3 linked regions of the Homo sapiens genome follow. The protein of the gene in region 1 purifies or fractionates together with the protein of each later gene. This does not show direct contact. Each region holds a gene or a part of one and is shown in the gene's direction. Other genes may lie near its edges. The genes, in order: NCR3LG1, EIF1AX and MIGA1.

The links.
Region 2: the proteins of NCR3LG1 (region 1) and EIF1AX purify together in Homo sapiens (affinity purification with mass spectrometry; 2 studies listed by BioGRID and IntAct, with this or other methods). This does not show direct contact.
Region 3: the proteins of NCR3LG1 (region 1) and MIGA1 purify together in Homo sapiens (affinity purification with mass spectrometry; 2 studies listed by BioGRID and IntAct, with this or other methods). This does not show direct contact.

Annotation. Positions count from the first base shown.
Region 1 is NC_000011.10:17,358,289-17,361,945, forward strand, and holds part of NCR3LG1 (natural cytotoxicity triggering receptor 3 ligand 1 precursor), read left to right. Parts: intron 1-3,657. UniProt on the Homo sapiens protein: Triggers NCR3-dependent natural killer cell activation.
Region 2 is NC_000023.11:20,128,339-20,131,995, reverse strand, and holds part of EIF1AX (eukaryotic translation initiation factor 1A, X-chromosomal), read left to right. Parts: intron 1-1,388; coding exon 1,389-1,480; intron 1,481-3,657. UniProt on the Homo sapiens protein: Component of the 43S pre-initiation complex (43S PIC), which binds to the mRNA cap-proximal region, scans mRNA 5'-untranslated region, and locates the initiation codon. This protein enhances formation of the cap-proximal complex.
Region 3 is NC_000001.11:77,876,845-77,880,197, forward strand, and holds the end of MIGA1 (mitoguardin 1), read left to right. Parts: 3' UTR 1-2,696; downstream 2,697-3,353. UniProt on the Homo sapiens protein: Regulator of mitochondrial fusion: acts by forming homo- and heterodimers at the mitochondrial outer membrane and facilitating the formation of PLD6/MitoPLD dimers. May act by regulating phospholipid metabolism via PLD6/MitoPLD.

The DNA of each region.
Region 1 (3,657 bases):
TATATGTTCTTAGGCTCCTTTTTGCTGTGACAATTTCTTAGACCTTATTTTTGATGTCCTTGACAGTTTGGTGAGGGTATTGGTCAGGTATATTGCAGGATGTCACTAAGTTAGGATTTGTCTGCTGTTTTCCTCATAATTGGACTTGGGGTTATGGGTTTTTGGAGGAACATCGCAGAGGTAAACTGCCATTTTCATCACATCAAATCACATGACTTATGACTGTTGATGTTGACCTTGACCATCTAGTTGAAGTAGTGTTTGTCTGGTTTCTCTACTGAAAAGTTACTCTTCCTCCTATTTTCATACTGTACTCTTTGAAAGGAAGTCACTCTGTGCAGCCCACACTTAAGGTTGGGGGTTACTTATGTTCTTCCTCCTTGGAGGTGGAGTATCTACATAATTTTTTTAAGAATTCTTCTGCATGGGAGATTTATCTCTTTTCTCCCATTTATGACTTTATTCAATCATTGATATCAATAAGGACTCAAGGATATTTATTTTATACTTTGTGTTATAATGCAATACTACTTTATTTTTTCTCAAATTTTTCCAGCTTTGGCCACGGGGAGCTCATTCACTTGGCTCTTGTGTCACATTGACATACCCCAATCATTGTAAGATTTTGTTTTGTTTTATTATTTTATTTTTTGTTTTATTTAATTTTTGGCAAATTCATATCAAGAATTTTGTTTGATTTTAAGCACTTTTTACATTTTGGCACTATAAGATGCTCCAGACTCATCTTGTATATTTCCTCTCTTGTATATTTCCTGGTTCTAGTCCTAGAACCAACCAATACTCCAAGAAACCTTGGTTCCTTTTATTGGAAAGTGATCTTAGAAACCAAGACCTGGACAGTAAGTGTACTTTTTGCTGCTGAGGTATCATTGATTCTAGACCCTCTCAGCCAACAGAGCAAAGAAATACATGTATGCATACTAACCTCTGCATATACACATATCTACAAATATTTCTATGTGTAACCATCTGTACCTATATTACATTAAACATTTGTTCTTACTGATGTCTCCAACTTTAGTCCATCACCACATAGATCATTCTAGTTTCCTTCTCTTGCTCATCTGTAAACTCCCACTCCAACAGTGAGAAACCTGTACCCACCATCCTCTGTTTATTGAATTAATTATTAACCTGTACTCCGATAAGAAACAACTTTATCTACTAGAGTACAGTGCTTTTTGGCAATTCCTTTTTTTTTTTTTTTTGAGATTTTTTTTTTGAGACAGTCTTGCTCTGTTGCCCAGGCCGGAGTGCAGTGGTGTGACCTTGGCTTACTGCAACCTCCACCTCCCAGGTTTAAGCGATTCTCCTGCCTTAGCCTCCCAGGTAACTAGGATTACAGGTGCCCGCCACCACGCCTGGCTAATTTTTGTATTTTTAGTAGAGATGGGGTCTCACCATGTTGGCCAGGCTGGTCTTGAACTCCTGACCTCAGATGATCTGCCCACCTCAGCTTCCCAAAGTACTGGGATTACAGGCATGAACCACCATACCCAGCCCAGATTTTAGCCATTTTAATAAGTATATAGTGGTATCTCATTTGTTGTTTTAATTAGCAGTTCCCTAATGATATAATGTTGGACATCTTTTCATATTCTTACTTGCCATTCGTATGTCTTCTTTTTTTGTGTGTTCATTGGTTGTCCAGGCTGGAGTGCAGTGGTGTGATTACAGCTCACTTCCCAGGCTCAGGTGATTCTCCCAGGCTTCAGCCTCCCAAGTAGCTAGGACTACAGGTGCACATCACCATGCCTGGCTAATTTTTGTATTTTTTGTAGAGATAGGGTTTTGCTGTGTTGCCCAGGCTGGTCTTGAACTCCTGGGCTCAAATGATCTGCGTGTCTCGGCCTCCCAAAGTACTGGGAATTGTATGTCTTCTTTGATGAGATGTTTGTTCAGATTGTTTGCCTATTTTTTAACTGGGCTCATTTTTTAAATTGTTGTGTTTTAAGAGTCCTTTGTACATTCTGGATACAAGCCTTTATCAGATAGATGTCTCACAGATATTTTCTCACAGTCTGTGGCTTGTCTTTTCATTCTCTTAACAATGTCTTTTGTAGAGCAGAAGTTCTTAATTTTAAAAAGTCGAACTTACTACATTTTTCTTTCATGGATCATGCTCTTAACATTGTGTCCTAAAGCTCATCACCAAACCCAAGGCTACCTAGATTTTCTCCTGTGTTATCATCTAGAAGGTTTATAGTTTTACCATTGACATTTAGGTCTATGATGCAGTTTACTTTAATTTTTGTGAAAAGTGTAAGGTTTGTGTCTATATTCTATATGTATTTTTTTTTTTTTTGCATATGAACACCTAATTGTTCCAGCATCATTTGTTGAAAAGACTGTCCTTTCTCCATTGAATTGCCTTTGCTTCTTTGTCAAAGATCAGTTGAATATATTTGTGTGGGTCCATTTCTGGGCTTTCTATTCAGTTTCTTTTCTTTTTCTTTTTTTCTTTTAATACAGGCTGGAGTACAGTGACACAATCTTGGCTCACTGCAGCCTCTGCCTCCTGGGCCCTGGCAATCCTACCATCTCAGCTTTCCGAGTAGCTTGTGCTACAGGCTCGCGCCACCGCTCCCAGCCAATTTTTGTATTTTTGTAGAGATAGAGTTTCGCCGTGTAGCCCAGGCTGGTCTGGAACTTCTGAGCTCGAGTGATCTCCCCCGTCTCAGCCTCCCAAAGTGTTGGGATTATAGGTGTGAGCCACCACACCCTGCCCTATTCAGTTTCATTGATCTCCCTCTTCTTTCCCCAGTACCACACTATCTTGATTATTGTATTTTAGTAGTAAGTCTGGAAGTCAGGTAGTGTTAGTCCCTCATTTTTGTTGCCTTTCTTCAGTATAGTGTTAGCTATCTGGGTTTTTTCTTTCCATACAAATTTGAGAATCTGTTGATATCTGCAAAATGGCTTTCCGGGATTTTGACTGGGATTGCATTGAATCTAGAGATCAAGTTGGGAAAAATTGACATTTTTTTTTTTTTTTTGAGACAGAGTCTCGCTGTGTTGCCCAGGCTGGAGTGCAGTGGTACAATCTCAGCTCATTGCAACCTCTGCCTCCTGGGTTCAAGCAATTCTCCTACCTCAGCCTCCCGAGTAGCTGGGATTACGGGCATGCGCCACCACGCCTGGCTAATTTTTGTATTTTTAGTAGAGACGGGTCACCAAGTTGGCCAGGCTGGTCTCAAACACCTGACCTCAAATGATCCACCAGCTTCGGCCTCCCAAAGTGCTGGGATTACAGATGTGAGCCACCACACCTGGCCAATGGTATTATATTTTTAATTTCAAATTCCAGTTGCTCAATTGTTCATTCCTGTCAAATAATTGATTTTTGCTTATTAACTTTGTATCCTGCAACTTGCTTTAATCACTTATTCATTCTAGGGATTTTTTTGTTTTTGTTTTTGTTTTTGTTTTTGGCCAAGTCTTGAGATTTTTCTACATAAATCAGGCTGTCTGTTAAAAATACAGTTTTATTTCTTCCATTATTTTATTTTATTTTTTACAGAGGTGAGGTCTCACTATGTTGCCCAGGCTGGTTTTGAACTCCTGAGCTCAAGTGATCCCCCTGCCTTGGCCTCCCAAAGTGCTGGGATTACATTGTGTGAGCCACTGTACCAGGCC
Region 2 (3,657 bases), on another chromosome or scaffold:
AAATATGGTGAGGAGTTCTGTAAGCTTTGGACTTCCACATAATGCTAACTAAAGGAATAATTTTGTTATAGTATCTATTAAAATTCCTTCCTCGAGAGACTGTCAGTGCGCATATGGGTTAAACACGAAGTGCAAGTCAGCCGGGCATGGTGGCACATGCCTGTAGTCTCAGCTACTTGGGAGGCCAAGACGGGAGGATTGCTTGAGTCCAAGAGTTCAAGGATGCAGTGACCTATGATCATGCCACTATACTCGAGCCTGAGTGACAAAGTGAGACCTTGTCTCAAAAAAAATTAAAAAAAAAAAAAAAAAAAAACCATGAAGCAAGGGCAAGTAATTAGGTACAGTTACTGATTTTGTTTGTTTGTTTTGAAATGGAGTCTCACTCTTTTGCCCAGGCTGGAGTGCAGTGGTGCAGTCTTGGCTCACTGCAACCTCTGCCTCCCAGGTTCAAGCGATTCTCAGCCTCCAAAGCAGCTGAGATTACAGGCATGCACCACCATGCCCGGCTAATTTTGTAGTTTTAGTAGAGACGGGGTTTCACCATGTTGGTCAGGCTAGTCTCAAACTCCTGACCTCAGATGATCCACCCACCTCTGCCTACCAAAGTGCTCGGATTTCAGGCGTGAACCACCATGCCCGGCCTCATTACTGATTTTTATTAAAAAGTTATATTTCCATTTTATCGTTGTATAATAGTATCCCATAGGATTTTTTAAAAGCAACATTTCTTGGTTTTCACCCTTCCAAATACAAAAGTAATGAATTCTTAACGCAGAAAACCTAAAAATAAGTCCCTTATAACCTCATCAAAGGGGAAATGTACTTGACATACTGTTCTGTAGGCCTGCATTTTCACTTGGCAGTTATTATTTTTGGCTCTGTTGTATCTTAAGAAAAAACATAATTTTGTTATATTTTACTTAAGCATGAAAGTCCTGCTGAAATTACTTAGCATTTCTGATCTAAGAAATGTTAATGTATATAGGAATAGGACTAGCGCTTCCTGGTTCATTTTCATTGCTTAGGGGTAATCATGATTTGACCAGATCTTTCTGATTGATGAGTCTATCTGATGATTAGTGAACCAGCTATTCTTAAGGAAATACGTTGTTACCATATTTCCTTGTATGTTGAGAAGTATACCTGAAAGTTATAATAGCTTCAGAATTAGTGTAATTAGGGCCTTCCTTACTAAAAATACCTTTGCAAACAAAAGAAAATGGTAACACAGATACTCCCATCTTGACTTAGCAGTGACACTGCAGGAATTTTTTTTCATAAAATATTCTTTATAGTTATTGTCTTATATAAAAGGAATGCTCTTATGATGAAACTTTGAGTAAATTACAGTGCTGACTTATGAGTATTTCTTACTGTGTCCTTAGCTAAAATCAATGAAACTGATACATTTGGTCCTGGAGATGATGATGAAATTCAGTTTGATGACATTGGAGATGATGATGAAGATATTGATGACGTAAGTAGATGTACCTTGTGTTTTCCAATTTTTGTTATTATCCATGGAGAAACCAACTTTCCCCTAACATCCATTAATTTTAAGAACATGGGACACTTAAATAAGGTTGTATTTTGAGAATTGTCTGAATTAAATAATATTATTTAGAAGACACCTGGTCAAACTGTTTATATTTTGAGAATTCTTTTTTTTTTTTTTTTTTTTTTTTTTTTTGTGATGGAGTTTTGTTCTGTCACCCAGGCTGGAGTGCAGTGGTACAATCTCAGCTCACTGCAATCTCTGCCTCCTGGGTTCAAGCGATTCTCCTGCCTCAGCCTCCTGAATAGCTGGGACTACAGGCGCGTGCCACCACGCCTGGCTAATTTTTTGTATTTTTAGTAGAGACGAGGTTTCACCACGTTGGCCAGGCTGGTCTCGAACTCCTGACCTCCGGTGATCTGCCCTCCTCGGCCTCCCAAAGTGCTGGGGTTGCAGGCGTGAGCCACCATGCCCGGCCCTATTTTGAGAATTCTTATAACCCTCTTCAATTTCTCTTCCTGAAAAGGTCAGTGTTTGCATTGGCAATATTAACGCCAGCCACTCTAATCATAACTTGTTTAATTAAGAGTCTCTAAAGAGATAGCCATTAAGAAATTTAGTGGACAGTTGAAAAATAGATCTTATCAAAGGAACATGCCTTTTTAATTGAAATATTAGTGTGTTGAAAGAATCTTGTTTGAACCAGCTTGATATGAAGCATTGGAATTACAACATACACTGAAAGCCTTGTCAAAATGGAAGCCTATTGCCAATTATGGTATTTTTAGCTGTTGGGTGTGTACTGTTGGCAAACTCTTGGTTTGCAGTTGGTATGTTTATTTTGAGGAAAATGGATTGTCTTTCCTAATAATAAAGTAGTAATGCCCATAAGTGTAAATGCTTTACTGCACTTCTGCTGTTACTGTAATTGAATGAAATTCAAACTTAATCTTTTGGCAGTATAAATTTATTTAGTGATTAGGGTGTTACTCTTAAATCTGTTTTGGGCTCTTCTTTTCAAACCTCTTTTAACTAAAATGTAGTTCAGAAACCACCTGTGTATTTCAACCCAAAAACAATAATAAGTCAGATGTGGTGGTATGCACCCATAGTCCCAGCTACTCAGGAGACTGATAGGGGAGGATCACCTGAGCCCAGGAGTTCAAGACCAGCCTGGGTAACATAGCCAGACTTTGTCTCTACATAAATAACATAATAACGTTAAATTTGATGCAAAGATGGAATTTCGGAATACCTAGAGCAGTTGTTCCTGACCAAGAATACTCACACTGTGAGTTAAATTACTAATATTATAGACATTTTAACATGTACACAAAAATAGGAAGTGAGAAATAAACATGTTGTTCTGTTATTTTCTTAATTTTGGAGACCCTGAGCCAAGAGGAGTCTTACGACTAAACTGTTACTAATATTTTGACAATAGAATTAACAATTCTATTCTTTGGTAAATAAGAGCTTGCAGCTGACATGTGGATTAAGCGCCAACCCAAACATTTTGACATCTGAGCAGGGGTAGAAGGCCTCTTTAAAAAAAAAAAAAAATTAAGGAACCTAACCAGAGAACATGCATGGATATGAAGCCGCATGCACCAAGATAATGGGTTGAGAATCTAGGCGTGGTCAAGATTTTCTCAGTAAAAATTTCTGGATCTGGGCCAACGCCTCCTCAGAACTGGACCCAGCTGGCTGGCTGGAAAAGGGATGGTAAAGAGTGATTATTAAAGGAGTTCTCTTGAACATTTTGTAAAAGTTGGCTCTGTCACCTGAGAACCCTACTCTTTGAGACATTTCTCCAGGTGGTTTATAGATGTTTTAACTATAACCAGATTGACTCAGGAGAATTAGGTCAGTATCACACTGAACGGGATCAATCATATCATGCTTCCTGTGTCTGCTCCCATCCATGAGATACAAAAATCTCAAATTACAAGCATTAAAGGAAGGAGACAGTAAATTTTATTAAGAATATTTTGCATAACATGTAACATTACAAAGGAGATCATCACGATTTACTTATAGCAGGCCAGAATTATAGGAATTTCTTCTTCAAACTGGATTTGTTTCTCACATAGCCTAAGGAGGTGAAAGTCTCCCTTATATATGGAGTAGACTGTTGGAATATAAGAATTCTTTTTCCT
Region 3 (3,353 bases), on another chromosome or scaffold:
TTAAATGCTTTCAGAGTTGTATTAATTTTGTTTCTAAATAATATACCACTTATTTGGAGTGACTAACTCAGTATGTAAGTAGATGAGATTTGTTGATTTTGCCCCTAAAACGGGCTTTAGTCATTTTAGGAGTGAGTTGCACAAAAGGACCTAAAATGCATTGTTTTTTGCCTTCTTTTAAGAGATGGGGTCTCGCTCTATTGCCCAGGCTGGAGTGCAGTGTGCTATCATACATAGCTCACTGCAGTCTCCAACTCCTCATACCAGAGGCATGTGTCACCATGTCTTACTCCTAAAATGCATTTTTAAAAAGCGAATTTTTAGATTAAAGTGCCTAGTTTCTGATTAATAAATAGAAGATGAAAAAAGTGGGCGGGAAAAGCATAATCTTTTAAGATTTGTAATTTTCTGTATGTGCCACATTTATGTAAATTAACTATAAAATATGGAATTCAGGATCATGCTGTTTTGCATGTACTTTATAGGTTATATAGCATGAAACATACAAATTATCACTGTTCTTTAGTATATAGCTCCTTGCCTTTTCTTACATAGATGCTTAATTTAACAATTACCTATTTATAGTTCTTATTATTGACGGGAATATGATTAGAAGTACCAAAACTAAAAATTCCATTATGTACTGTTTACTTTTTATTTAATATTACATGTTTTTACCTTGTTGCGGTATCTTTGGCCTTCACACACACATGTGTGCGTGCACGTGCATTTCATTACCATGTAGACAAGACAGTTATTGCTTATAGTAATTTACCCATTTGAGGGCTAAGTGTTTTAAGCTGTGGTTTTATAAGCAAAGCTGTAAGTAAATGTAATTTATTTTAGAAAGATATTATTTGAAATCAATTTTGAAGAATTGCACTATTTGATAATGCTGCTACTACATGAGATAACTCTGGGGAATTAATTTTATGAGATAAGATGAATGGCTTTCTAGAAGGTGTTGCTTTTTGTTTTTTCTTTTTCTTTTTTACATTTCATCTTAGAAAAAGTTGCTTATATTCAGCAGGTTGGTTTGTCAAATTCAGTGTTTGAGTTTGTTTCTGGTCAGTTCAGTAGCTGCTACTTTAGCAAGATGTGGCCTTTCACAAAAGAGGTAAGAGTGACCAAATAGAATTTTAGGACAATAAGTATAGGAAATATCTCTTTATCGTAAGATAAGAAACTTGAACTTTTTAAAGGAAATGTCCTCTTGAAAAGAACATTTCTGACTGCATGCAGAAGGGTACTTAAGACATATATAACAGGCCAGGAGCAGTGGCTCACGCCTGTAATCCCAGCACTTTGGGAGGCCCAAGTGGGCAGATAACCTGAGGTCAGGAGTTTGAGACCAGCCTGACCAACATGGTGAAACCCCATCTCTACTAAAAATACAAAAATTAGCCAGGCATGGTGGCGCATGCCTGTAATCCCAGCTACTCGAGAGGCTGAGGCAGGAGAATCGCTTGAACCCGGGAGGCGGAGGTTGCAGTTAGCCGAGATCGTGCCATTGCACTCCAGCCTGGGCAACAAGAGTAAAACTCTGTCTCAAAAAAAAAAAAAAAAAAAAAAAAAAAGACATATGTAACGGTTTCCATTTGCCTTAAAATTGGGTTAAATAGCAAAAGCAATGTCTTTAAAAATGATTAGTTTAGAGCCTTTTAGGGTAAACCCTGTTTAAACACTTAATCATGGAATTGCCCTTGCCACCATGAGCTCTACCATCCACTTCCATATGTAAATTATAAGAGGGACTTCAATTAAGTCACTCCTGAGAAAATATCCTTTTTTCTAGAAGAAAGAAGATAAATTTTGAGGCAATTTACATTTGGTATTTCTTTTAATTTCATTTTTTGTATTTTAATTTCCCTACATTTTTGTTCAACTAAGAGTGCTTATTTCTTCTTGAAGGTTAACATTATGTTTATTAAGTATCAAAATGGAATTATCTTTTAAAAAAGAAGACAAGTTTTCCATACTGTCACAGTAAGCTCCAAAGAACTTTGTCTTTCTCATAAAGTAATATTCTTTATTTGCATCCATTTACTATGATTCCGTTAATTTGTTGAATTAAATGCCTTTATAAAAATATTTACAAATGTTTTCTTGCCTTAAAATGTAACATTTTCTACTTAAATTTAATTTCCAAGAGAGTGATTATTTGCATTACAAAGGAATTCTTAATAATTCCTGTAAGCCTAGGAAATAGGAATGCCAAAGTAACATTTAATGTACTTCTCTATAACTTTTCATAATCAGAAATTTTAAATTATGTTTATATAACCCATTTACTTTTATTTTAATGTGAATATATATTCAGAAATTATTTGATGTAAATTTCAAAATGATTATAGGAATTAAGCTGAATTCTAATTTTTTTGCTTAGATTTAGAAATATGTATGTGAAATTTAAGAATTTATATAATCTGTGATTAGTGGAAATAAGAACATCCCTACTTTGTTCCTAATGAGTATATTATGTTATTGTTTTGTTTAGTTTGTGAACAACCATGTATTAGCTTTACTTAGCTGATGTCAGTAAATGTTTCTGTCTCCTAAATGTAAGGACTGTACTCATTAATTTGTGTAAAAGTAAAACACTACAGTAGCAGAAAAAATTGCACTGGCTCTTTAGCCAAAATAAGCACTGTAACATGGATGTATTACTATTACTGCCAAATAAAAAAGTGATGGTACGTCTTGCTGATGTATTGAATATTTTAAACAATGTTAATATATAATTATGAAGTCACACTTGTCTCATCAGATCCTGTATGAGAATATTCAGTCTCCATAAGACCCATATATATGGCATAGAGAACAGGACAACTGCAGAAGCATTATAATCAAATATAAAACTTTATCATTAAAATAAAAAATAAAAGGCCGGGTGCGGTGGCTCATGCCTGTAATCCCAGCACTTTAGGAGGCCGAGGCGGGTGGATCATCTGAGGTCAGGAGTTCGAGACCAGCCTGGCCAACATGGTGAAACCCCGTCTCTACTAAAAATACAAAAATTATCTGGGCATGGTGGTGGGCACCTGTAATCCCAGCTACTTGGGAGGCTGAGGCAGGAGAATCGCTTGAACCTGGGAGGCAGAGGTCGCAGTGAGCCAAGAGTGCACCATTGCACTCCAGCCTGGGCAACAAGAGCGAAACTCTGTCTCAAAAAAATAAAAAATGAAAACAAAGATTAAAAATTTATTGTTTCTCCATGTACTGATATGGGGAAAAAGACAGTTTTGTGATGAATAAAGTGAAAATACTTGTATTTTAATTTAAGTGTTTGGATGATAATGCCATCAAGCATAATATAAACTTATATTGATATATTGATGTATATGCATCATTAC